Homo sapiens: one gene and its partners. The protein of the gene in region 1 purifies or fractionates together with the protein of each later gene. This does not show direct contact. Each region holds a gene or a part of one and is shown in the gene's direction. Other genes may lie near its edges. The genes, in order: DEPTOR, MYCBP2, COPG1, CCDC6, OPA1, MAPKAPK5 and EIF2B3.

Region 1 (3,500 bases):
GTCCTAGGTGTTAAGAAGGAAGTGAGGCTGGGCGGCTCATGCGTGTAATCCCAGCACTTTGGGAGGCTGAGGCAGGCAGATTGCCTGAGGTCACGAGTTCAAGACCAGCCTGGCCAACATGGTGAAACCCTGTCTCTATTAAAAATACAAAAATTAGCCAGATATGGTGTTGGGTGCCTGTAATCCCAGCTACTCAGGAGGCTGAGGCAGGAGAATTGCTTGAACCCAGGAGGCGGAGGTTGCAGTGAGCCGAGATCGCATCATTGCACTCCATCCTGGGTGACAAGGGCAAAACTCCGTCTTTAAAAAAAAAAAAAAATTGACCTGCCCCCTTATCCCCACCCCTGGCACTCTTGCTTTCCTTCTCTTTCTTTTTTTCCTTAGCTTTGTAAGGTAGGTTTAGGGTTATTTATGTTTGCTGCTATTTACTGTCTCCATTCAGCTAAAATATAAACTGTGAGGCAGGGATCTTTGCCACTTTTTCTCACTGATGGTCACCTACGAGATATCAATAAATAGCTGCTGAATGCATGGATAGAGGACTTGGAAGTGCTTATGTCTTGACATTGTGTTTGTCTGCCAGTGCTGAAGAGACCTGTCACCTCTGAGGAACTCCTTACTCCCGGGGCTCCGTATGCAAGGAAGACATTCACGGTAGGCTGATGGTCTGGCCTTTTTCTCCCGTGCTGCCCATTTTTCTGCACCGTGTCCATGTGTCAATGGGTAGCTTATAGACTGAAATGAAAACTACTTTTCTAATTTTCTTTTTGTTTTTAGCGTAATTATGATACTAGGCTTTCTTGACCTCAAGGCACTAAGGTGCATTAGGACTTCACATGCGTTATTATTAATATACCATTTAAAAATTTTTTGATGTGTTCTTTGTTAAAGAAAAGATTTCCATTATGCATTTATTCTAATTTAATTGCAAATTTCAAGATTGGCATCATTTGCACTTGCATTTACCTTAAAATCTAATAATTTTAGATTTTATTTCCCACCATTAGTCATTTAAATTATTATTAGATTTTATGGCAAATGGAAGTGCAAATGATGCCAATAATCCCTTCTGCATTAGGATTAATTCTAGAAATTATTTAAAACATTAGGGGAGTGTTAAGCTAGAGAAAGGAAACTGTGGGATAAACTTTTCTACCGTAGGCAGGGTGCTTCGACAATGTGTGCATGCCTTGAGGTACACGAGCCTCTGACTTGCTGTGAGCAGCTCCGGACCACCTGCCCCTTCTTGGAGGTCCTTTAGGTTCCTAATGCCTACGTTGGATTTCTTCAAATGGAATGAAAGTGCTCTTTTCAGCATCACCGCACCCACTCCCCTTCCTGTGTCTCCTTCTGTCAATCTCCTCAAATTCACGTTCATACCCTCTTCAAAACACTTCTCCTCCTTCATCTTCTAACTTTAGTGGCATTGCCTCAGGCTGGGGGAGAATTCTATCCACACTCAGTCATGCTGCAAACATTTGCTGAGGGCTATTTCACATTCTGAATGCTGAGGAGTTAATAGGAGAAAGGCGCTGACAACATGTCTGTACCAGAGGAAAAGATAAACTCCACCTTCGGAAGTGAAATTGAGTATAATATACAAATAACAGCAAACTGTAAAGTAACGGAAGTGCCTGAAAATCTTGAGCATTTCCACAAAAATTTTCATTTGCCTCCCTGTTTTTCCTCAGTCTCCAGCATTCAAGAGAGGTAGATTGTTATTTTGAAAGTATTTATTTTTGATTTTTAATTTAAATGCCAACATTGTTAGTAATTGATTGTGAATGTGTTTCAGCTGTGTTTTGGTTGGGATATGTGTGAAAGATGTGGCTAGGAGCTGTCCAGGGAATTAAACTGCCAGCTCTAATAATGATTTCTATAGAAAAGGCCTTCTCTAATTCCAAACAACTTTTGGATTAGAGTCTACTTGTACATTGTGAACTTTATGTACTTTTTCACTTCTTTTCCCCCCTTGGTGGAGAAAGGGGCATGGTGGAGCCCTTGGTGGAGGGCTCCCTTGGTGGAGGCTGGGCATGGTGGCTCACGCCTGTAATCCCAGCACTTTGGAGGCTGAGGCAGGTGGATCACCTGAGCTCAGGAGTTCGAGACCAGCCTGACCATCATGGTGAAACCCTGTCTCTACTAAAAATACACAAAATTAGCCAGGCATGGTGTTGCATGCCTGTAATCCCAGTTACTCAGGAGGCTGAGGCAGGAGAATCGCTTGAACCCGGGAGGTGGGGTTGCAGTGAGCTGAGATTGCACTACTGCACTCCAGCCTGGGTGACAGAGCAAGACTCTGTCTCAAAAAAAAAAAAAAAAAAGCCAGGTCTCTTTATTTCCCACCATTAGTAATTTCAATAATTATGCTAGACTTCAATGACGTTGCAGGATCAAGAGTGTATCATTTGGATACTGGGGAAAAGAACAAACTTAGAGCAGAAATTGTATCTGGAGAGACATTTCAACCACGTTACGACTTTTTCTAAACCTTCTATTGGAGTCTGACATTAAATTGTATAACAGCCTAAGAAAGAGAAAATCTTCCAGTTGTTTATTGAATCATGCCCTCATGGGAGCATCTTCTTTCTGCCAAACAGGTTAGATTTTTTTTACCACCTTTTCTACAGGGAGATGCCCGGGTTTGTGATAGAAGCAGTGTTCCAATCCCCTGGCAGGGAAGAGAGAAACGGAGGAAAATATGTCACAGTGTATACTTAATCCTGGGCTGGTTTTCTCTCCCTCAGAAGAATAAGCAAATTGCCGGAGACAGTCGGCTGCTTGCTAATTGTGGTTTTCCTCTCTAGATTGTTGGTGACGCGGTTGGCTGGGGTTTTGTGGTGCGAGGAAGTAAGCCATGCCACATCCAGGCTGTAGACCCCAGTGGCCCTGCAGCCGCAGCAGGAATGAAGGTACTAACGGGTCTTTCTCACCCTCTTTTATATCTGTCTTGGGTTCTTCATGCTAAATTGGCCATGATTCTTACTAGGGATCCAAACCCATCTTATTTTGTGTCCTTTTCTATTTCTGCCCTCTCTTTCTTGTTCTCCAAAGTCTTTAACCTTTCCCTGGGTCTTCCCTCTCCTCTAATAAACATTTAGAAGTGTCTAGCCAGGCGCGGTGGCTCACACCTGTAATTCCAGCACATTCAGAGGCCAAGGCAGACATATCACTTGAGGTCAGGAGTTCAAGACTAGCCTGGCCACCGTGGCGAAACCCTATCCCTACTAAAAATACAAAAATTAGCCGGGCGTGGTGGCACACACCTGTAATCCCAGCTACTCAGGAGGCTGAGGCAGGAGAATCGCTTGAACCCAGGAGGCAGAAGTTGTAGTGAGCCAAGATCGCACCACTGCACTCCAGCCTGGGTGACAAAGCGAGACTCTGTCTCTAAAACAAAACAAAACAAAACAACAACAACAACAACAAAACAACATTTAGCAGTGTCTAAATACCTCTAGCTTAATTTCATTATTTGGTGCCATGTGTACTTTTTCTCC
Region 2 (3,469 bases), on another chromosome or scaffold:
TTTCTGTTTTGGAACAACACATTTTTGTAATGCTTGTCATGATGATTTTCAAAGAATGACTAGCATTCCTAAGGAAGAACTACCACACTGTCCTGCAGGTATGCTTTTAATATTTTAAAATCACGATTATGATCTATATACCATAGTTTTATGTAAACATTATATGAAAGCTCTGTTTCAAGTGACAGAAACTCAATTCAAACTAGCCTAAAGAAGCAGGAGGAATTCCTTGATCCTTGTAAGCTTATGACTTTCTGGGTGAATTAGGAAGCAGGCTCATCATCATGAGTGAGAAGTTAGCTGTGACGGAGCAGATCTCATGGGGAGTGAGAATGAAGTCTACTAAGGATTGGTGAAAAGATGGCTGTTCAGCACTAAAAAGTCATATGAAGTTCAATATTACAGAACCATTTAAAAGGATTCTGTGATTTTTTTTTTTTTTTAACGAAGCCTGGAACCGTTGCCATAAAATGAACCAAGTGATTTAATCTAGAATGGCTGGGAATCAGTAGTGTAGTGAGCATCAGAAAGTCAAGGGAATTAAAGAAACCACTCAGAATACAGGAGAAATTATTGTCTATGGAAAGCAGGCTGAGGGGAAAGAAGTATGAAACCAAAAAGAAGCTGAAAATACTGGAAGAGGACAGGAGGCTAGTGGCAACGGTGAGGTGGAATACCAGGCTTCACGGAAGTGAGAGAAGTGGAAGGAGAGGTCCGTGCAACCATAGGAGAGAATTTTACATAAGATATATCTGAAATTAGTGAAAATACATGCACAAGTACATACAACACAATATACCGTGTTGTCAAAGCTAGAAAACACACACTGCCATCTGCTGCCTATCAGAGTGCAAGTGATAGACCTCTCCGGAAAACAGCTTAATAGTGCCTCTCAAAATTACCAGCGTATCAACCCTTCAGCACTCCCTCTTCAGGGATATAGCTACAAATGTGAGGACAGTAAAAAAGGGCAAATAAACAAGGTTATTAACTACAGCTTTGCTATGATAATAAAAATGTATAAACAATGCTAGTGTCCAGTAGGGTAGTGGCTAATATTACGCATCAGTTTAAAAAAAAAAAAGAGTGAGGATGGTGTTTCTGTGTGCTGATTTGGAAAGATCTTCAGGAGATAGCATCAGATGAAAAAAGTAAATTAGGCCAAGTGGTGTGACTGACACCTGTAATCCCAGCACTATGGGAGACCGAAGCAGGTGGATCACTTGAGGTCAGGAGTACGAGACCAGCCTGGCCAACATGGTGAAACCCCATCTCTACTAAATGTACAAAAATTAGCCAGGCATGGTGGCGGGTACCTGTAATCCGAGCTACTCACGAGGCTGAGGCCAGAGAATCACTTGAGCCTGAGAGGCGGAGGTTGCAGTGAGCCAAGATTGCGCCACTGCACTCCAGCCTGGGCGACAGAGCTGTTTCAAAAAAAAAAAGCAAATTGCAGAACAGAGTATGCAGTATGCTGCCTTTTGTAAGAGGGAAAATGAGACTATCTAGTCATATTTGTTTATATTTACATAAAGAAACCCCTGGAAAGATACTCAAGAAACTAATACTATTGATTAACTATTGGGAAAAGCAAGAAAAAGATGAGGGTAGAGACTAGGGAAAGTTGCTTCCAATTGTGTTATCATTTTTAACATTTTGATTTTAAACCATGTGAAACATATACTATCCATTTCAAAATAAAGATAAGTAGGGTTTTTTCAAGTATGACTACTTTTTACCATTTGCTCATGTCAAATAAAAATTGTTTTACTGTTTCTCCTCAAATACTGTTTTTTTTTAATAGAAGTAGCAGGCTTTGAAAGAAGCAAGGCCAGAATGATGTGAAGCCAGGTTATGGAGGATAATGGACAGAACAGAGATGTGAGCCATGCTTGGAGGGAGGGGGTGATGTGCTGGAGGTCAGCAAGTGAAGGGAGTGTGGAAAGGGCAGTATTCTAGATGACTCTAGATGACTTGAGCTTGGAGGAAGGGCAATTATTGAATGAAAGTTGTAGGTTGTGGTCTGGAAAGAAATAGGAGCCAAGAGAAAAATCAGTCACACGTTGTAGCCATATGACCTGGAGGAGCTTGGGAGATAACCAGCCTCCAGTTGAGAAAGATTTAAGGCAAGCAGTATCTTCAGGGGAAATCTAGATTTTACTTAAAGTTTCCTCTATGTTAAAAAACAGAAATAAGAATGCTAAAAATAAGGAAGTTAACAATGAAACACTTTAGAGAACTCAGTGGTGGGTAGTAGCTGAGAGAGGAGGGTCAGGTTTCCTCACAGGATCAGGGCAGCCAACACAAAGGAATCACAGGAGGGAGGCGGGGGAGGAGCCAGAGTTGGCAGAAGGAAGGAATGACCTCGGTCCTGGGCATTTTCACACATATTTGCTCCATTTTTACAATCTGCGAGTAGATGGTATTATCCCTATGTTATCAAATGGAAAATTGAGGGCTAGGGAGGTTAATGAACTGGCCTAAGAACATACACTGAGATTGAGGTATACTCTCCCAGCCTCACACATCCCTCTAACTCATCCATTCATTTAGAGAACTGGAATAGAATAAAGGAGATCCCACAGGGATGTGAGTAGGGAAGATGGCCATATACAGTTTACTTAGAAGGACAGAAGAAGCAATTCTCTAACCACTCTCAACCCTGTTAATTCTAATATTTTTAGATAATCAGTCTTCATCCATTCAAGCTGCTATAACAAAATACTGTAAACTGGGTAGCTTATAAACAGTGGAAATTTATTCTCACAGTTCTGGAGACCAGGAAGTCTAAGATCTAGGAATTAGCAGTCGAGGTGTCTGGTGAGGACCCACTCTCAGCCTCATAGGTGGCACTTTCTTGCTGTCGTGGAAGGGCAGGGGGCCTCTCCTGGGTCTCATTGATAGGAAGAGCACTAATCCCATTCATGGATTCCACCCCATGACCTCATCACCTCCCACAGCTCCACCTCCTAACACCATAACATTGGTGTTAATGTTGTAGTCTCAGCAGTGCACCAAGATATAACAGTCTCTCATTGTCTGAGATAATGCCAGGAGTTCTTTGTCCTACCTCCAAGAAGATTAAGGAGCACAGATACAAAGGTGAGGTTAGAGCGAAAGTTTAATAAGCAAAAGAAGAAAGCTCTCTGCCAGCAGAGAGGGGGGCCCAAACAGGATGCTCCCGTGAGGCTGGGGCCCAGGGTTTTTATGGACTGGAAAGGGGAAGGAATGTGCTTAGTCTGTGGGCTGTCTTGGCCCGCAGCGTGACTCAGCTTGGCCCGGGACCCTGGCCCAGGAACCCACTGGAGCCCACTGTGCCTATGCCCACAAAAGGAGAGAGCCCCCTGACTATACAAAGGACAAAGGCATTTCTATCCCAGGTCTTGTCCTTTATCTGATTGAAGGTTTTTCTGTCTGTGCAGCCGTGGGCATGTCTTTAGGCACAATGCCCTGTGCTAGTTCCCTCATC
Region 3 (3,500 bases), on another chromosome or scaffold:
GAAAAATTTTTTTTGAGTATTAGAGAATAAAAGCCAAGTTATGAAGAAAGGAACATAGATATTCCAGAAAACAGTAGTCATCTTCGCTCCTATGATTGAGTGCCAAATTTAGCTCTGAGCTTCCGGGCAGCCAGGGCAAGGGAGGGATATGGTACCCGAATGGCTCTCATCTAGTTAAAGGAAATAAACCATTTGTTTAAGAGAGGACTTTGTTCTTCAGCACTTGGTGCCAAGGGGGAAGTTCTGTTGGATCCTGTAGACACAGTAGGAGAGAGGAGTGGAATATTACTTCACAGAGGTTAAGGGCTTAGGCTGCAGGTGCAGGCAGTCTTGGAATTTAATCTTGGTTCTGCCACTTACTGGCTGCCAACCTAAAGTTTGTTTGCTTTCCCCTTTGTGCCTCAGTCTCCTTATCTGTAAAGTGGGCTAGTGGTGGCTGCAAGCTATAGAAGTGAGGCATGTCCACTGTATAGCACAGCACCTGGCACACAGCAGATGCCCAGTGAATAACAGCCCTCACTGGAACCCCTGGGTGCTCACAGACATTATGGCCTCTGTCCATGGCTCAGGTGCGCAGGGTGAGGGGAGCTCTGTGTCTTGGGTTGGGATGGGGGTGTCAGCAGGGAAATGAGCTGAGCAGAGGGTTTGAGTCAGAACAGTAGCCCCCGGTTTTCCCAGCTGCCCAGCAGTGAAGGCAACCTGACATGTGGCATCCATCTCCCCACAGTGCTCCAGCTTTTCTGCAGCTCACCCAAGGCTGCTCTCCGCTATGCTGCTGTTCGTACCCTCAATAAGGTAAGAGTCCAGCTTGGGGGTTGGAGGAAGCTGTCTGATCCAACTGGAGGTGTGTCCTAGCCTCTGACCTGGCTGGGAAGGATAATAGCCCTGGTCACAGTTAGTTTCTTCTAGATGGTGAGATGATCTCATCCAAAGGACTTCTGACTGGGCCAAACCATCAAATGTAGTGACAGCATTGGGTTCCTGCCCTCTCTGTCACTGTCCTCCCAAAACAGGTTGCCATGAAGCATCCGTCAGCTGTGACAGCTTGTAATCTGGATCTGGAGAACCTGGTCACAGATTCAAACCGCAGCATTGCCACGCTGGCCATCACCACCCTCCTTAAGACGGGCAGCGAGAGCAGCATCGACCGCCTCATGAAGCAGATCTCCTCCTTCATGTCAGAAATCTCGGATGAATTCAAGGTACCTGCTACCCCCAGGACACCCACGGCCCCCAGAGGAAGGAGCTCTGTCCCTGCTCTCTGTGGCCACAGCCTTCCTGCCAGGACTGACCTGAGGGGCTGGTCAGCCTTGAGGACTCAGAGGAGGCCAGCAGTTTGCTCTGCAGAGACTTGGCCTTCCGAGAAATGTGCGTAGTCCTGCCTCCAGGCCTCCATCCATATCGTCCCCTTGTACTGAAAGAACAGTAGTTTCCAGGCCAGTTAAGGGTTCATTGATTTGTTGTCCAAGTATTTCTTGAGCACTTGCTGTCTGCTATGTAGAGTGACAAAAGGGGAACATAGCAGTGAACAAAGCAGGTGACTGCCCTCCTGGAGCTTCCTTTCTAGGGATGGGAGAGGAACAGTAAACAGGTAAAGAAAGGAGTAGACGAGATCATCTCAGGCATGGGTACTGCAGTCAAGAGTGTAGAAATACAGCAGGGATGATCCTAGGAAGAGCACAGTCTGGGAAGGCCCTTCTGGAGGGTGACATTTGAGCTCAAACCTGAATCAGTGCAAAGAACCAGGAGGAAAGGCAGGAGCAAGTCAAGGAGAGAGAAGGCCAGTGGGTGGAAGAGCTGTGGGGCCAGTGCAGGTGACAAAGTCAGAATAGACAGGGCTCAATCATGTAAGGCCCATGGTCAGGTAAAGAGTTTTAATTGCAAGGAAGACATTGGAAAGGTGTTCTTTTGGGGCAGGAGGAAGGATGTGAATATTTTTTGAGCTTATATTTTGAAATAATTCATAGGAAGTTACAAAGAAATATACTGAGAAGTCCTATGCACCCCTCCATCAACCCTCTCCTACAGTGCCAGCATCCTACACTAGCACAGGACAATGTCAACCAGGAAAGTGACACTGGCATGACCCATAGAGCTCATTCAGATTTCACCAGCTACACAGGCAACTCCTGTGTGTATATATGTGAAGTTCTATGCAAGATGTCATGTGGAGACTTTCAAAATTGCCACCACAGTGAAGACACTCAACTATCCATCTCCACAAGACTCTTGTTACCTCTTCATAGTCAGGCCCATTCCTACCTCTCTATTCCCTAACCCCTGGCAGCCATTAATTTGTTCTCAATTTCTGTAATTCTGTTATTTCACAATTGTTAATTGATAGAACAATGAAGTATGTCACCGGAGAGTTTTAATCAGAGCAAACAATAATATGAATAATATATTGTGGTAAATTCTATAGTGTGGATTATGCAAAGTAGGCAGCAGTCTACTCTGCCTGTGGGTTACAAGAATGCTTTGCAGGCTGAAATGACACAGTGAGATTTGCATATTAGATCCTTCTGGGTCTGGGCACGGTGGCTCATGCTTGTAGTCTCAGTGCTTTGGGAGGCCAAGGAGGGAGGATCACTTGAGGCCTGAATTTTGAGACCAGTCTGGGCAATGTAGCAAGACCTCATCTCTACAAATTTTTTTTTTTTTTTTTGAGTTGGAGTCTCGCTCTGTTGCTCAGGCTGGAGTGCAGTGGTGTGACCTCAGCTCACTGCAAGCTCCGCCTCCTGGGTTCACGCCATTCTTCTGCCTCAGCCTCCTGAGTAGCTGAGACTAGAGGCACCCGCCACCATGCCCAGCTAATTTTTTGTATTTTTTAGTAGAGACGGTGTTTCACCATGTTAGCCAGGATGGTCTCGATCTCCTGACCTCATGATCAACCCGCCTTGGCCTCCCAAAGTGCTGGGATTACAGACGTGAGCCACCGCACTCGGCCTACAGAAAATTTTTTTAAAAATTAGCCATGTGTGGTGATGCGCACCTGTAGTCCCAGCTACTCTGGAGGCTGAGGTGTGAGGATCACTTGAACCCAGGAGTTCGAGGCTGCAGTGAGCCATGATCATGCCACTGCACTCCAGCCTGGGTGACAGAGTGAGACCTTGTCTGAAAAAAAAAAAAATTGGCTGGGCGCGGTGGCTTATGCCTGTAATCACAGCACTTGGGAGGCTGAGGTCGGCAGATCACTTGAGATCAGCAGTTTGAGATCAGCCTGGCCAACATGGTGAAACCCTGTCTCTACTAAAAAAATTAAAAAATTAGCTGGTGTAGTGGCTCACACCTGTAGTCCCAGCCACTCCGGAGGCTGAGGTAGGAGAGTCGCTTGACCTGGCCTGGAGGTGGAGGTTGCAGTAAGCCGAGATCGTGCCACTGCACTCCAGACAGAGCGAGACTCCGTCTCAAAAAAAAAAAAAAAAAAAAAGAGTCCTTCTGGAGCAGAGTGGAGGGGTGACTGGGTAAAGAGACTGTTGGAGTAATTCAGAAGGAGAGGA
Region 4 (3,500 bases), on another chromosome or scaffold:
AGCAAGTTCAGGAAGACACATTGCCTTTTTGCCACACCCTGGGGAAGAGCCGGGCTCTTTTTTTCCCCCGACTTGTTTTGTTTTTTAATAGACTTTATTTTTTTAGAGCACTTTTATCTTCACGTAACACTGAACATAAAGTACAGAGATTTCCCACGTAACCCCTGCCTTCACACGGGCACAGCCTCCTCCACCATCAACATCTTTCATCATAGTGGTCCATTTGTTATAGTCAGTGAACCTACGTTGATACATCATTATCACCCAAAGTCTAGAGTTTACTTGGTCTTGTATATTCTATGAGTTTAGACAAATGTATAATGACATGTGTCCACCATTATAGTATTACGCAGAGTTTTTCTGCCCTGGAAGTCTTCCACGCTCTGTTCATCTTTCCCTCCCTGCAAACTCCTGGCAACCACTGATTTTTTTTACTCTCTCCTTAGTTTTGCCTTTTCCAGAATGTCATATAGTTGGAATCATACAGTATGCAGACTTTTCACTTAGTAAATGCATTTAAGTTTCTTCCATGTTCCCCAACTCCTATATCTTGTTTTCTGTTCAGAGTTAAATAGTATTTCATTGTTTGGATGTATCATAATTTATCTCTTCACCTCCTGTAGGGCATCTTGGTTGTTTCCACCTTTTGGCAATTATGAATAAAGCTGCTGGAAATATTCATATGAAGGGTTTTGTCTGGAAAGATATCAGTTCATTTGGGTAAATTCCAAAGAGCATGATTGCTGAATTATATGGTAAGAGTATGTTTAGTTTTATAAGAAATTGCCAAACTGTCTTCCAAAGTGGCTGCATCGTTTTTCATTCCCACCAACAGTGAATAAGAGTTGCTTTGGCGGGGCCGGGCGCGGTGGCTCATGCCTGTAATCCCAGCACTTTGGGGAGGCCAAGGCAGGCGGATCACCTCAGGTCAAGAGTTCGAGACCAGCCTGGCCAACATGGTGAAACCCCATCTCTACTGAAAAAAATACAGAAAAATTAGCTGGGGATGGTGTTGCATGCCTGTAATCCCAGCCTCTTTGGAGGCTGAGGCAGGAGAATGGCGTGAACCCAGGAGGTGGAGGTTGCAGTGAGCCAATGTCGCACCACTGCACTCCAGTCTGGGTGACAGAGCCAGACTTCATCTCAAAAAAAAAAAAAAAAAAAAAAAGAGTTACTGTTGCTCACCAACATTTGCTGTAGTCAGTGTTCTAGATTTTGACCATTCCAATAGGTGTATAGTAATATCTCTGTTATGCCCTTTTTAAAGCCAAGTCCAAAGGCTAATAGAAGCTCTTAACCAATGGTCTCTTCTGGTATGTAAGCGGCTATTCTGGTCAAACTACCCATTTAATGAACGACTAGTTTCATGGGCCTGTGTTCTCAGTATCTGTATAATAGTGGTAAACATCATCTGTGGGAGACAATCAACAGTAAGCAGTCTTTCAGTCGTGTCCACAAGCGCCCAGTGCACCTGTGAGTTATAGCCTGCCCTAGGCCATTTTATTTGGGGCTTAAAAGTGGAATAGAATATTTTGAGTGATTATTCAATTTTCCCCATGAAGTCAGCAGGGGAATCAGGCTACTGATTACAGATCATAATTTCTTTTTTTTGGAGTAGGGGAAATAAACAAATGCATAGTCACCTTTTTGAGTAGCTTTTGTATGTTAGGCCAGATCTGTTGGTTTGTCCTATGAGTGAGAATGTGATTGTGGATTATATGATTCAGTGTAGTGAGGGTTATTGTGGGGTGGTGGTCTTAGAGAAGGTGAGGAAATGCAATTGTGGGCAGTAATTGGATGGCTTCAAAGTTCTCAGCTAGTTGCTGGCATTCTCCGTGTATAAGCAGGGCCTCAGGTGGTTCTCTAGGGTGTGTACCTCTTCCAGGCAGTTTCAGACCTTTGGTATGTGTTTGGTTTGGAAATCAAGGCCTATAATAAATCACTGATATTTAAGTGTCTCTCTGACTGTAAAATTAATCCTTTATTGTAGAAGTTAAGGGAAATACAGAAGTACAAGGTGTTTTGAAGTTATAATAGAAAAATATGTTGGTCTGGCATGATTAGAAAACCTGGCTATTTTAAACATCAACAGTGTAATGGTTTCATTAACCAATAAAATCTGCCATATAGTTGATGTTGTATATTTTGGATTATTTACTCTGGAAGTCTAATATGTTATTTTCAATTTTTAAGACTTTTGTCAGACTCTGAAGCTACAAATCGATATTGCCTTTATAAATGTGACGATGAGAGTGTGATGTCTTTTTTCCCCCCGTTTAGAAAAGTATTTCTTAGATTCTTATGGAAACACACAACTTTAGACACAACTTTGAGGAAAATATGACCTCACAGTTAGGTCTAACTGTACACAAGTCTTCTTAAAGAGGCCATTCTCCTATTTCTTCAGCATTTACGAGTTTTTTCACATTTGTAAGTATCTTCTATGTGTTTCATATACTCTATTTGTACTTAATTTTTAAAAACCGTTTGTTTTTTTTGTGTGTGTGTGACAGCTTTATTACCCAGACTGGAGTGCAGTGGTGCGATCTCAGTTCACTGCAACCTCTGCCCCCCAGGTTCAAGTGATTCTCATGCCTCAGCCTCCCTACTAGCTGGGACTACAGGCATGCGCCACCATGCCCACCTAGTTTTGTATTTTTAGTGGAGGTGGTGTTTACCATGTTGTCCAGGCTGGTCTCAGAACTCCTGGCCTAAAGTGATCCACCCACCTCTGCCTCCCAAAGTGCTAGGATTACAGGTGTGAGCTACCATGCCCAGCCAAAAGCTGAAATTTTAAAGGTCATGACAGTCTTTTACAGTGCTTCCTATTTGCTAGAGATGGGGAATCATTAGAGAATTCACAGTATCTGGTTTGTGGTGACTCTTGTTCAGGACCAGAGAGGCTGGTCTACAGCAAAAATTGAAGGTAGCCATTGCTTGCTTAAACATATTGAATGACTCCCCATTGTCCTTGGATCCAGGTGAACCTTCTGGTGGTTTACCAGGCTCTGCATGATTGGAATGCCCTGCTTGCTTCACAGCCACACCTCTTACATGCGTTTAGCCCAGTGTGCATTCTCTAAGCTCTCACATCACTCCTTTACTACTAGCACCCAGAACTTCAGTAGATTTCCTCTGGCTCCTCAATGGTGCCGCTCGTCCCCTTAAATGTTCTTCTGTATTCCTCCCCTCTTTTCTACCTTGTCAGTTGAAATAGACTGTACTGCCTTCTCCACCTGAACCCCTTCCTGGTATGCCCTGATACTTCCTCTTTGTCAGCCACACACCGGGGTATGCACCTGCTACTGGGGTATGCACCTACTTCCGTGGTTCCATAGACACCACCCCCCCCACCCCACGTCACTGACACTCGACTATCGAGATCTTTCCCGGTTCATGTGTAAATTTCTTTGGGGGCAGAATTTGCCTTGTTCATCACATTCCTCAGTGCTTGGCATGTGAGAAACACCCAGAAATTTGTTGAGCTGGCTCCAGAGGCA
Region 5 (3,500 bases), on another chromosome or scaffold:
GTAGAAGGCACAGCCAGGAGGCCAGTGTGGCAGGAGCTGAGTGAGGGGAGAGTGGTAGGAGAGGATGACAGAGACCCAGTTGGGAGGCCTTTGGATTTTATTCTGAATAAGATAAGAGAGAAGTTAAGAGAATGAGAATATTGGAAGTGGAGTCAATGAATATAGATAATTTTCTAGTTTTATTGTGACAAAAGAGCAGAGAAATGAAGCAGTAGCAATTGAATATTGTTGAATTAAGGGAAGGTTTTTAACCCTTTTCCTGTTTAGAAAAAAAGTGCAGCTCAACACCAGTGCTCATTTAATTTTACGTAAACACACTCTCTGAAGCTGAAGCAAATCTGACTAATTTTCAATGTGAAAATAAAATATAAAAACTGTTCTTAGAGTTATTTCTAAACAGTACTAACATCAGAATCGTCCCAATCATCAGAATGTCTGTTTTTTAAAAGTCAGATTTATCAAATCAATCTTCGGCCAACAACTTTTTGAGAATGATGTAAACATCACACATAGGAATTCCGCATTTTCTAGGATTTGACATTTTCAGCTATTGAAAATTACTATATTTTGTAAATGGACGTACCGCTACTAAAAACAGAATGCTTGAAATAGAATGTCTTTTGTTTCCAAAGTCAGTACACTAGAGCTATGTGAAAATAATCATAAAAGTGAAGATATTTTATGGCAGAGTTATGTTGGGGCAAATGCTGCAGCTGCAAGCGGTGCTGGCAAATATTGTCGGAGCAAGTGGGAAAAGGATTAAAGATGTTTATATGCTGATTATAATGATCTAATAAAGGGGGGAAATGATGCAAGAGAGAGGGAAAATTGCAAGAGCAAAGTTACTGAGGTGAAGGAGATTGTGACTTGGTGTACTAGTCCATATCTGGGAGCACTGACAATTTCTCCAGGGTCACAGGAAGAAGGTATGGGGCTGCAGAGTCTTTCATTGAACAGATATTTACGGAATGCTTAATATGTACCAGTAGCATTCTAGGCAATATGTTGGTAAACAGCAACAACAAAGAAGAACCTTGCCTTAATGGAGGGTATGTTCTAGTAGAGGGAGACAGATAATAGATAATAAATATAATACATAATTGTATAGTAGGTTAGAAGGCAATAGTGTTGTACAACAAGAAAAAGCAGAACCAGGCAAGGAGAATGAGGGTGCCAGAGTATTCATAGATTGCATTGATAAGGTGGCATTTGAACCAAGATTTGCAGAAAGTGAGGGAGTAGTCCTGAGGATATCCTGTGTTCAGCAAGGAGAATAGCTGATGCAAAGCCTCTGAGGTGGTTGTGTGGCTGTCATGTTCAAGGAACAACAAAGAGGCCTGTGTGGTCAGGTCGGGGTGAAGAGCTAGCCATGGTCGGGGCAAATGATGACATTAGAGGAATAATGAAGAGCGGGGAGGAACAGATCAATAAGGCCTTATAGGCCATTGTACAGACTTCCGTTTTAAGTAAAATGGAAAGCCAGTGCAGGATTTCGAGCAAAGTAACAAAAGTGCCTTTTAAAAGGCTGCTCTTTTGAAAATAGTTGTAGCCAAGATGTAGAACCAGGGAGTCTAGGCTACTGGAGTATCCAGGTGATACTTGGGCTAGGGAAGTAGCAGTGAAACTGGTAAGAAATGGATAGATTATAAATGTGTTTTGAAAGTAGAATTAACAGGATTTCTTGACAGGTTTGATATGGAGAGGGGAGAGAAGAAAAGCAATGGGGAGAGAGAGAGAGAGTGTCAATCATCAATGATGCCTCCAGGGTCTTTAGCCTGAACAAATTGAAGGATGTAGTTTGCATGGAAGTCTGTCAGTGGATCAGGTTTGGGGGAAGAAGATCAGGAGTTCAGTTTTGGACTTGCTGAGTGGTGATAACAAGCAGTTGGGTATACAAGTTTAGACAGAGGTGTGGGCCAGAGACATACATTTAGGAGTCATGATCAACTATCTAAAAGTAGTATTTAAAGTCATGATCTTACTGGAGAAGATCTTCAAGGGAGTGAGTAGAGATAGAGAAAACACAGAAGCAAGCAGTATATTCTGGGCACTCTGAACATTAAGATGTTGAGGGAAGAGAAAATAACAAAGGAATGTGTGAAGGCCCAACCAGTATAGTAAGAGGGAAAGCAGAGCAGGACAGTGTGCGCAAAGTCAGGTAAACAAAAAGAAAACATGGAGGAGGAGGGAGTGCTCAGTGAGGTCACATGCTGCTGATCCATCAAGGAAGGTGAACATAGAAACCAGTCGTTGAGTTCACCAGTGGAGGCAAGAAAGGGGAACGTGTGGAAGTTTCCTTCTGATTGCTTCCGCTTACTCAGTGAAATACTAAGCCAGATGATCAGCTGTTAATTAGAAAGGAGAAGAGATTAAAGACTGAGGCAGGAAGAAAAAGTGAAGTCTGTTAACAGATCGTGGTGACTCTAGGAGTGAATCAGTGGAGAAAGTCAAGTGATATTAGGATTACTGAGGTGGACTGAAGTCCCTTTAAGTTCTGTGGACATAAATTTTAAATGAATCATTATGATTGTGTTTTGTTTTTTTCATGTTTAGCTGGTGGGGGGTAGGTGTAGAATAATTGGAAGATTGAAATTACCAAGAATTATGGCAAGAATAGTGGGAGAAAGACAGTGAGGCTGATGCTGAAATCTTCAAGAAATGAAATCTGTTTACAAGTGCAACAGGGTATGGGCAGCCTAGTGTGATTCATCTAGATTGCACTTTTGTGGGTCTAGCTATGGATTGAATCGTGTTATGTGTTACTAGTTCTGTGTGTGGTACTGTGTGACTGTACCAGACTTTACATATCCATTTTACTACCGATGGGAATTTGGGGTACATCTAACCTAGAGAAAAAAACAAAATGAACCTCAGACTACACCTCATATCCTGTTCAATAATCAGTTGTAAAAACATGGGAGAGAAACCTACCTTTTACATTGTTACTAGCATCCTAATTGTAGAAGCTGTGGATGATACTTCAAGAAGAAATTAATTTTGTTTTGGCAGGCAGGGTGTGGACAGGTTTCCTTGAAACAGATGAGGCTGGTCTCTTTCCGGTTTGTCATTAGTCCCTTAGTGTTTACTAGAGCTTCTCCTTGACCAACCCTGAATTCCAGTTTTTTGTTTCCCTAGAGCAGTGAAAGTGCCAAAACCCCAGCTTAGCATTTTAACCTCCTTAGCAGCTTCTTTCTGCTTGGTTTCCTAAAATGTGAATGCCGTGAAAGGAAATTGTGCGCAGGATGTAGGGTTTTGTTTTGTTTTGGAGGTTTATTTCTGCAGTTCATTTTTCTTTGGGATTGTGGCACCTTAAGACGTGACTACTTAATAACTCGGAATTCCAATCTTGTCTACTCAACCCAGTGAAACTGCTACACATTTTAAGTTTTTCTCTTGGGCCTTTGCCCTGTGCTACAAATCAGCAAATCCTCTGATGGAAAATAGCTAAACAGCTTTCCAACAGCTGTTTATTGTTTTTAAATTTAGCCTGTTTAGCTAAT
Region 6 (3,500 bases), on another chromosome or scaffold:
GGAGAACTGGAAAGTACAGTTCTCTGCCTTCTCTTTGATTTGTGGGTGGTTGTCTTCCTGTTGTCCAGAAATGGTTTGGTCATTCAAAAATCCAAAGGGATTACTTAGATCCTGGTTGTCAGCACATAGAGGTTACTCAAGATCTTAAAAATGAGGAGATAAGGCCAGGCATGGTGGCTTACGCCTGTAATCCCAGCAGTTTTGAGAGGCTGAGGCAGGCAGATCACTTGAGGTCAAGAGTTCCAGACTAGCCTGGCCAACATGAGGAAACCCCATCTCTACTGAAAATACAAAAATTAGCTGGGCGTGGTGGCATGCGCCTGTAATCCCAGCTACTCTGGAGGTTGAGGCAGGAGAATTGCTTGAACCTGGCAGCGGCAGAGGTTGCAGTGAGTCAAGACTGCACCACTGCACTCCAGCCTGGGAGACAGAGCAAGACTCTCTCAAAAAAATTCTTGTTGTGAAAATTCAGGTGGTACAGCCGTGTTAAAAAGTAAAAGTTCCCTTTCATTCCCTGCCACAGTCACACCCCTCAGAGGTGAGGTAATCTATGGCTTGATGTATACTTCCTGATCGTTTTCTGGGATACACACACACACACACACACACACACACACACACACACACATTCTGTCCTTCTTTTAAAGTACAAAAATGGAAAAAAAAATACAAAAATGGGATCATATTCCTATGAAGCCTTCTGATGATTTCGTCTGCCCGTAGTGAGATTATACACTGTTCATAAAAGCACAAACTTCCAGAGTTCCAGACTCCATGACAGCTATTTCTCACTGTAAATTACTTGACTGGTTGTGGCCTCGGTCATGTGGCCTCAGCCTTGGCCATGTGAGATGGTCAGGGCTCTGAGCTGTCAGGGCTGAGGTGAATCAATACCGTCTGTAAGGCTTCTTGGGCAGCAGCCTGCCAGCCTTTCCGCTGATGTCCATATGTGCCTCTTTACACTTCCCCTCAGTAGTGGCTTTGAGTGGGGTTCCTGCTGGTATTTCTTACTCGCATTTCTGTCCCCCCACCAGGGAAGAAGGGCTAGTTGTTGTGTGACCTTTGGTTGGCCTGGTGTTTCCTGGTTCCTGTTGATCCATGGGGAAAAGTCCTTTGCCTTATCAAAATATTTATATTCCTTCAGCATAAGAGTGAAATTACCTTCTTAGTACTTTGAGCTTTTCCTTTCCACTTTCTTAGACTGGCTTTTTAGGTGCCCAGCAATGAATATGAAAAACTGACGGCAGTGTTTGCATTCAGGCAGTGGTTGCAGGAATCCAGCAGGCTCACGCGGAACAGTTGGCCAACATGAGAATCCAGGATCTGAAAGTCAGCCTCAAACCCCTGCACTCAGTGAACAACCCCATTCTGCGGAAGAGGAAGTTACTTGGGTAACTGAGCTTATTTCTTCGATTCTTCTTCATGGCTGGAATGGCTGAGTACTGGGTTCTGAAATTTAAGAAATTTAACTTGCTCAGCTAGGGGTCTTTAGCCTCTGAAGAGGGTGGAGAGGATAAGTTCTTTAAATAGTATCAGGAGTTGGACACTATTGTTATTTTTCTGATACATCTGTTGCCTTATGTTTAGAGGTAATATCTGTCCAGAGTTGGTTTTTGGGGTCTCACGTTGTCATTACCCCTCCCTCAAACTCTTAAAGCACCAAGCCAAAGGACAGTGTCTATATCCACGACCATGAGAATGGAGCCGAGGATTCCAATGTTGCCTTGGAAAAACTCCGAGATGTGATTGCTCAGTGTATTCTCCCCCAGGCTGGTAAAGGTCACACCATTTACTAATCCTCTGTGTGTCTGTGAGTGTGTGTGTGCAGGGGTGGGTGGGTGTATGCATGCACATGGCAAAAGGAATGGTTTAATTTTGGGTTGTCTGTTTCATCTTGTGTTATAAGAAAAGTACATTATATAAGGTAGTCTATGCCCACTAAAAAGATTGGACAGTGGGAGCTTAGAAATGCAGTTAAGTTCTGCCCCTCCTTTGTTTCTGTGGAATTTCTAGTTTAGACTTAATTGGCAGTGTCAGGTGCAAGCATGCAATTTTGTGTTTTCTTAGTTTGACAACAAGGGCACAGGTTGGGGGATGGAGAATGGAAAATGTGGGTAGGGTCTGAATCTCATTGCAGGCTGTTAACCATTTCCAGAGCCTTTAGAGTGCAAGGCTGCCATTAGCTCATAAATAAGAGAATACCTCCTTAGTTCAGAAGTGGCTCCTGCTGCTACTCATGTCATGGGCAGAGTGACTTACACGTGGGTCCTTTGGAGTGAGAGCTTTCTTTCGTTATGTTCTCTCTCCACTCATCGGCGGGTGAGGGGCTATTCTCAGCAGATAAATGAGATGCTTCACGTACTAGGCCAGAAAACAGTTGGGTTGACCTATCTATCTCCCTAGATTCCTTGGGTTTTAAGAGAACTCATGTAGTGTACCTCAGATAGCTTTCTAAAGTAAGAAATGAGCTTAGGGGAGAGAAAGTAGCCCACTCTCCCACTTTTTGGTCTTTGGTTGACCAGGTGTCTTTTGTTCAGCAATAGAGTCTGCCACAGCCTATTTCCCATCCCCTGGTGCTAAGACTCTGGGGCCATCAGTGGATTTGTATAAAGATGTCAGAGTAAAAAAGAGTCCACATACCAGATGCGGTCTACATAATGTAGGGACTAGCAGTAAAGCCCTTGTCTGGTGAAGTTTTGCACATTCAGTCAACATTTTTCAACCAGTTGGACATCACGTCCCTCCATCTCTCACACTAAAACCCCATGATGCTGCAGGAAAAATGCAAATTCCTCTTCATCCTTACCAATAGGAGAGAATGAAGATGAGAAACTGAATGAAGTAATGCAGGAGGCTTGGAAGTATAACCGGGAATGCAAACTCCTAAGAGATACTCTGCAGAGCTTCAGCTGGAATGGTAGGAGCCTTCATCAACTCCCTTCCCCAGGAATGCAGACAAGTGATTATGTTTAGAACATATAGGATCTCTTTGGGGCCTGAGCTGCGGCTGTTTTGAAGTGAAGTGAGGCTGGCTGGAGAGTGAGTGGAGCATTGTGGAATGGGGGTTAGCTCTACATTAACTGCCCAGGCATACCTGGATATCTGGCCCTTTCACTTATTTTCCGGAGTTCAAGTGAATTGTGTATTGCAGATTCAACACTAGAAAGCCCCCATCACACACCACTTGGGTAAAAAAAACCCCCAAATTTCAGAACTCCTCTCAGATACCAGGACTATTCACCAGGTCATTAAGAAGCAACAGATGCTGAAGGGGAGAAAGAGGACAAAGTGCCAGCGAGTCCACCCTGCTGATCCCGCTGATCTGCTTGGCTTAGAGAAGAGCTGTTTCACGAAAGAGGAGAAAGTTTGCCAAATCTACTGCTGGTTAAGTTTTTTTCCCGAAGCAAATAAGGTAGAGATGAATTTCTTGAACTGCCTTGTTTTTCTTGAGGCGGAGTTTCACTCTGTCCCTCAGGCTGGAGTGCAGTGGCGCAATCTTT
Region 7 (3,500 bases), on another chromosome or scaffold:
GAGAACATAAATTGATAAAGCCATCTTTGGAGAGCAGTTGACATCACTGTCAATTTTTTTTTTTTTTTCGGAGTTTCACTCTTGTTGCCCAGGCTGGTGTGCAATGGTGCAATCTCAGCTCACTGAAACCTCCGCCTCCCGGGTTCAAGCGATTCTTCTGCCTCAGTCTCCTGAGTCGCTGGAATTACAGGCATGTGCCACCACGCCCAGCTAATTTTTTGTATTTTTAGTAGAGATGGCGTTTCTCCATGTTGGTCAGGCTGGTTGCGAACTCCCGACCTCAGGAGAACTGCCCACCTCAGCCTCCCAAAGTGCTGGGATTACAGGCGTAAGCCACCGCACCTGGCATCACTGTCAAATTTTTTTACTTTGACTTAACAGTTTCATTTCTAGAAATTAATCTTATAGATAAGCTTATACATGTATGCACCCTTAATCTCAAAACCTTGAAAACATATCAATAGATCTAATGGCCCAGGTTGGCACCAATACTGTACAGTGATTCTTGAAGCCTAGGCACAGTGGTTCATGCCAATAATCCCAACACTTTGGGAGGCTGAAATGTGAGGATCGCTTGAGCCTAGACAACATAGCAGGAACCCATCTCTACAAAAAAATTAAAAATTAGCCAGGCACAGTGGCACACACGTGTTGTCCCAGCTACTCAAGAGGCTGAGGCAGGAGGATTGCTTGAGCCTGAGAGGTCAAGGCTGCAGTGAGCTGAGATCGCACCACTGCACTCTAGCCTGGGTGACAGAGGGAGACCCTGTCTTAAAAATAATAATAAAAATTAAAATGACTGATTGCTTTTGGTATTATTCCTAAACCTAAAATAAGGTGGGGAGGGGAGTTGCTGAAGGAATTAACCCCACCAACTCTGTAGACGCCACATCATTTCCTTCTTCAGTTTCTTCCCCCTTCCCTTTTTTAAAGTCATATGCCTTCCTTTTGGGCTTTAGAATCAAACAGACCTCAGTTCACATCTCAACTCAACTTAGTGGCTGTGCACCAAGTGAAATTTTTAATCATTAAGCCCTCAGATTTTCCTTTTTTTTTTTTTTTTTTTTAATTTTAATTTTTTGAGACAGAGTCTTGCTCTGTCGCCTAGGCTGGAGTACAGTAGTGCTATCTCAGCTCACTGCAGCCTCCTCCTCCTGGATCCAGGTGGTTCTTGTGCCTCAGCCTCCCGGGCAGCTGAGACTACAGGGGCACACCACCACCCTTGGCTAATTTTTGTGTTTTTAGTAGAGACAGGGTTTTGCAATGTCACCCAGGCTGGTCTTGAACTCCTGGCCTCAAGCAAGCCACCCACCTCACTTTCCCAAAGTGCTGAGATTACAGGTATGAGCCACTGCGCCCAGCCCCAGATTTTCTTAATTAGACAATTGGGACAATAATAGCTACCTTGGAGAATTGTGAGAATTACATATAATTAAATGACAGGTATATGCACTACTCCTTGAGTGTACCAAAAGACTTAGAATTCCTCATACATACCGTGCCATTATACCTCTCCATGCTTTTACATGTGCTCTCTCTAGATTTCCTCTCTTGAAGACTCCGACCAAGTGTTTTCTCCTTTGTAGAACCTTCTCTGCCTCTTCCCATGACTCCCCATAGCAGAACTACACATTCCTTCCACTGTGTCCTTGAGCTTTGCCACACCTTTATTAAAGTATGTTTCACAAGCCATGGCAATTATCCGTGAATCAGCCTTCCCTACTAAGATCCTCAAGGTCAGCTGGGCATGATGGCTCACACCTGTAATCCTAGCACTTTGGGAGGCCGAAGTGGGCGGATCACCTGAGGTCAGGAGTTCGAAACCAGCCTGACCAACATGGTGAAACCCCGTCTCTACTAAAAATACAAAAAATAGCCAAGTGTGGTAGTGCATGCCTGTAATCCCAGCTACCTGGGAGGTTGAGGCAGGAGAATTGCTGGAACCCAGGAGGCGGAGGCTGCAGTGAGCTGAGACTGCACCACTACACTCCAGTCTGGGTGACAGAGCAAGACTCCATCTCAAAAAAAAAAAAAAGATCCTCAAGGTCGATTGTCTCATAACTATATGCATCCCTAGCTCTCAGAACAGGTCCTGATTTATGGTAAATGCTCAGAAGGGGAAAAGAGTGAATGAATGAATGTTGGATCCATGAAACATATTTTGGGGGATTTCAGGGTATAAAGTTAGGGTTCCAAGAAAGGCCTCTGTGCGATGGTTGCAATCATCATGAGATGGGCTTCATAAACTCCTGGGCTTTCTGGCTTTAATTAACACTATGTGTCCACCTTTTAGCAAGGAGACCCTTTAATGGTCCTGCTGAAGGAGGGCTGGCCAGGGAAGTCATCTTGTCTGGGCTCTAAACTGGACAACCCCACCACTTCCTTCTCTCTGTCCTCTGCTGGAAGGACCAGTGCATCCAGCACAGTGGTCAGTGCCCTCCTGCCACAGGAACTCCCTGGCCAGTTGCCTTTTTCCACTATTACTTCTTCTTTTTTTTTTTTTTTTGAGACTGAGCCGTATGGTGAAAGCAAACTCCTAACCATCAGTGCAGCACTCAAGACTTGTTACTATAGGTGACCTAGGCAAACACCAACAACTCACATCCTTACCAGCAAAGAGCTCAATAGATGGCAAAGTCTTCCGTCAGTCTTCCTCACATGAAGGGGTTTCAGGAAAAAACATTCATCCTAAGAAATAATGCAGTCTCAGCCGGATGCGGTGGCTCATGCCTGTAATCCCAGCACTTTGGGAGGCTGAGGCGGGTGGATCCCTGTGGTCAAGAGTTCGAGACCAGCCTGACCAACATGGAGAAACCCCATCTCTACTAAAAATACAAAAAATTAGCCGGGCGTGGTAGTGCATGCCTGTAATCCCAGCTACTTGGAAGGCTGAGGCAGAAGAATTGCCTGAACCTGGAAGGCAGAGGTTGTGGTGAGCTGAGATCACGCCATCACACTCCATCTTGGGCAACAAGAGCGAAACTCCATCTCAAAAAAAAAAAAAAAGACATAATGCAGTCTCCTCTCCAAATTCTAATCATTTTCATGCTCCAGAGTCACCACATCCATAGCAGTCTTTTTCCCCAAAAGTATGGCTCGTAACTCAGTGTAGGCCTCCCTACCCTCTTCTAGCACCAACACGAAAACAAGCCATTTTATAACAACTCTGACTTTTCTCACCCCATCCCAATACTCTCATTGGTTATCTCTGGCAAAAATACTGGCAGCCAAATTTGACCTTCTCAAGCAGTAGAATGGCTACAGCTAACAGTCAAAACCTAAAAAATGGCTGGGTACAGAGGCTGTAGCTCACGCCTGTAATCCCAGCACTTTGGGAGACCAAGGCGAGTGGATCACTTGAGGTCAAGAGTTCGAGACCAGCCCAGCCAACATGGTGAAACCTCATCTCTACTAAAAATACAAAAATTAGCTGTGTGTGATGGCACACACCTGTAATCCCAGCTACTTGGGAGGCTGAGGCAGGAGAATCACTTGAACCT

Evidence for each region.
Region 2: the proteins of DEPTOR (region 1) and MYCBP2 purify together in Homo sapiens (affinity purification with mass spectrometry, with the first as the bait; one large-scale study listed by BioGRID). This does not show direct contact.
Region 3: the proteins of DEPTOR (region 1) and COPG1 purify together in Homo sapiens (affinity purification with mass spectrometry, with the first as the bait; one large-scale study listed by BioGRID). This does not show direct contact.
Region 4: the proteins of DEPTOR (region 1) and CCDC6 purify together in Homo sapiens (affinity purification with mass spectrometry, with the first as the bait; one large-scale study listed by BioGRID). This does not show direct contact.
Region 5: the proteins of DEPTOR (region 1) and OPA1 purify together in Homo sapiens (affinity purification with mass spectrometry, with the first as the bait; one large-scale study listed by BioGRID). This does not show direct contact.
Region 6: the proteins of DEPTOR (region 1) and MAPKAPK5 purify together in Homo sapiens (affinity purification with mass spectrometry, with the first as the bait; one large-scale study listed by BioGRID). This does not show direct contact.
Region 7: the proteins of DEPTOR (region 1) and EIF2B3 purify together in Homo sapiens (affinity purification with mass spectrometry, with the first as the bait; one large-scale study listed by BioGRID). This does not show direct contact.

Annotation. Positions count from the first base shown.
Region 1 is NC_000008.11:120,006,222-120,009,721, forward strand, and holds part of DEPTOR (DEP domain-containing mTOR-interacting protein), read left to right. Parts: intron 1-583; coding exon 584-654; intron 655-2,807; coding exon 2,808-2,912; intron 2,913-3,500. UniProt on the Homo sapiens protein: Negative regulator of the mTORC1 and mTORC2 complexes: inhibits the protein kinase activity of MTOR, thereby inactivating both complexes. DEPTOR inhibits mTORC1 and mTORC2 to induce autophagy.
Region 2 is NC_000013.11:77,047,626-77,051,094, reverse strand, and holds part of MYCBP2 (E3 ubiquitin-protein ligase MYCBP2), read left to right. Parts: coding exon 1-98; intron 99-3,469. UniProt on the Homo sapiens protein: Atypical E3 ubiquitin-protein ligase which specifically mediates ubiquitination of threonine and serine residues on target proteins, instead of ubiquitinating lysine residues.
Region 3 is NC_000003.12:129,259,606-129,263,105, forward strand, and holds part of COPG1 (coatomer subunit gamma-1), read left to right. Parts: intron 1-727; coding exon 728-795; intron 796-1,013; coding exon 1,014-1,202; intron 1,203-3,500. UniProt on the Homo sapiens protein: The coatomer is a cytosolic protein complex that binds to dilysine motifs and reversibly associates with Golgi non-clathrin-coated vesicles, which further mediate biosynthetic protein transport from the ER, via the Golgi up to the trans Golgi network.
Region 4 is NC_000010.11:59,900,057-59,903,556, reverse strand, and holds part of CCDC6 (coiled-coil domain-containing protein 6), read left to right. Parts: intron 1-3,500.
Region 5 is NC_000003.12:193,638,208-193,641,707, forward strand, and holds part of OPA1 (dynamin-like GTPase OPA1, mitochondrial), read left to right. Parts: intron 1-3,500. UniProt on the Homo sapiens protein: Dynamin-related GTPase that is essential for normal mitochondrial morphology by mediating fusion of the mitochondrial inner membranes, regulating cristae morphology and maintaining respiratory chain function.
Region 6 is NC_000012.12:111,887,228-111,890,727, forward strand, and holds part of MAPKAPK5 (MAP kinase-activated protein kinase 5), read left to right. Parts: intron 1-1,260; coding exon 1,261-1,391; intron 1,392-1,657; coding exon 1,658-1,773; coding exon of another isoform or gene 1,774-1,779; intron 1,780-2,812; coding exon 2,813-2,917; intron 2,918-3,500. UniProt on the Homo sapiens protein: Tumor suppressor serine/threonine-protein kinase involved in mTORC1 signaling and post-transcriptional regulation. Phosphorylates FOXO3, ERK3/MAPK6, ERK4/MAPK4, HSP27/HSPB1, p53/TP53 and RHEB.
Region 7 is NC_000001.11:44,854,096-44,857,595, reverse strand, and holds part of EIF2B3 (translation initiation factor eIF2B subunit gamma), read left to right. Parts: intron 1-3,500. UniProt on the Homo sapiens protein: Acts as a component of the translation initiation factor 2B (eIF2B) complex, which catalyzes the exchange of GDP for GTP on the eukaryotic initiation factor 2 (eIF2) complex gamma subunit.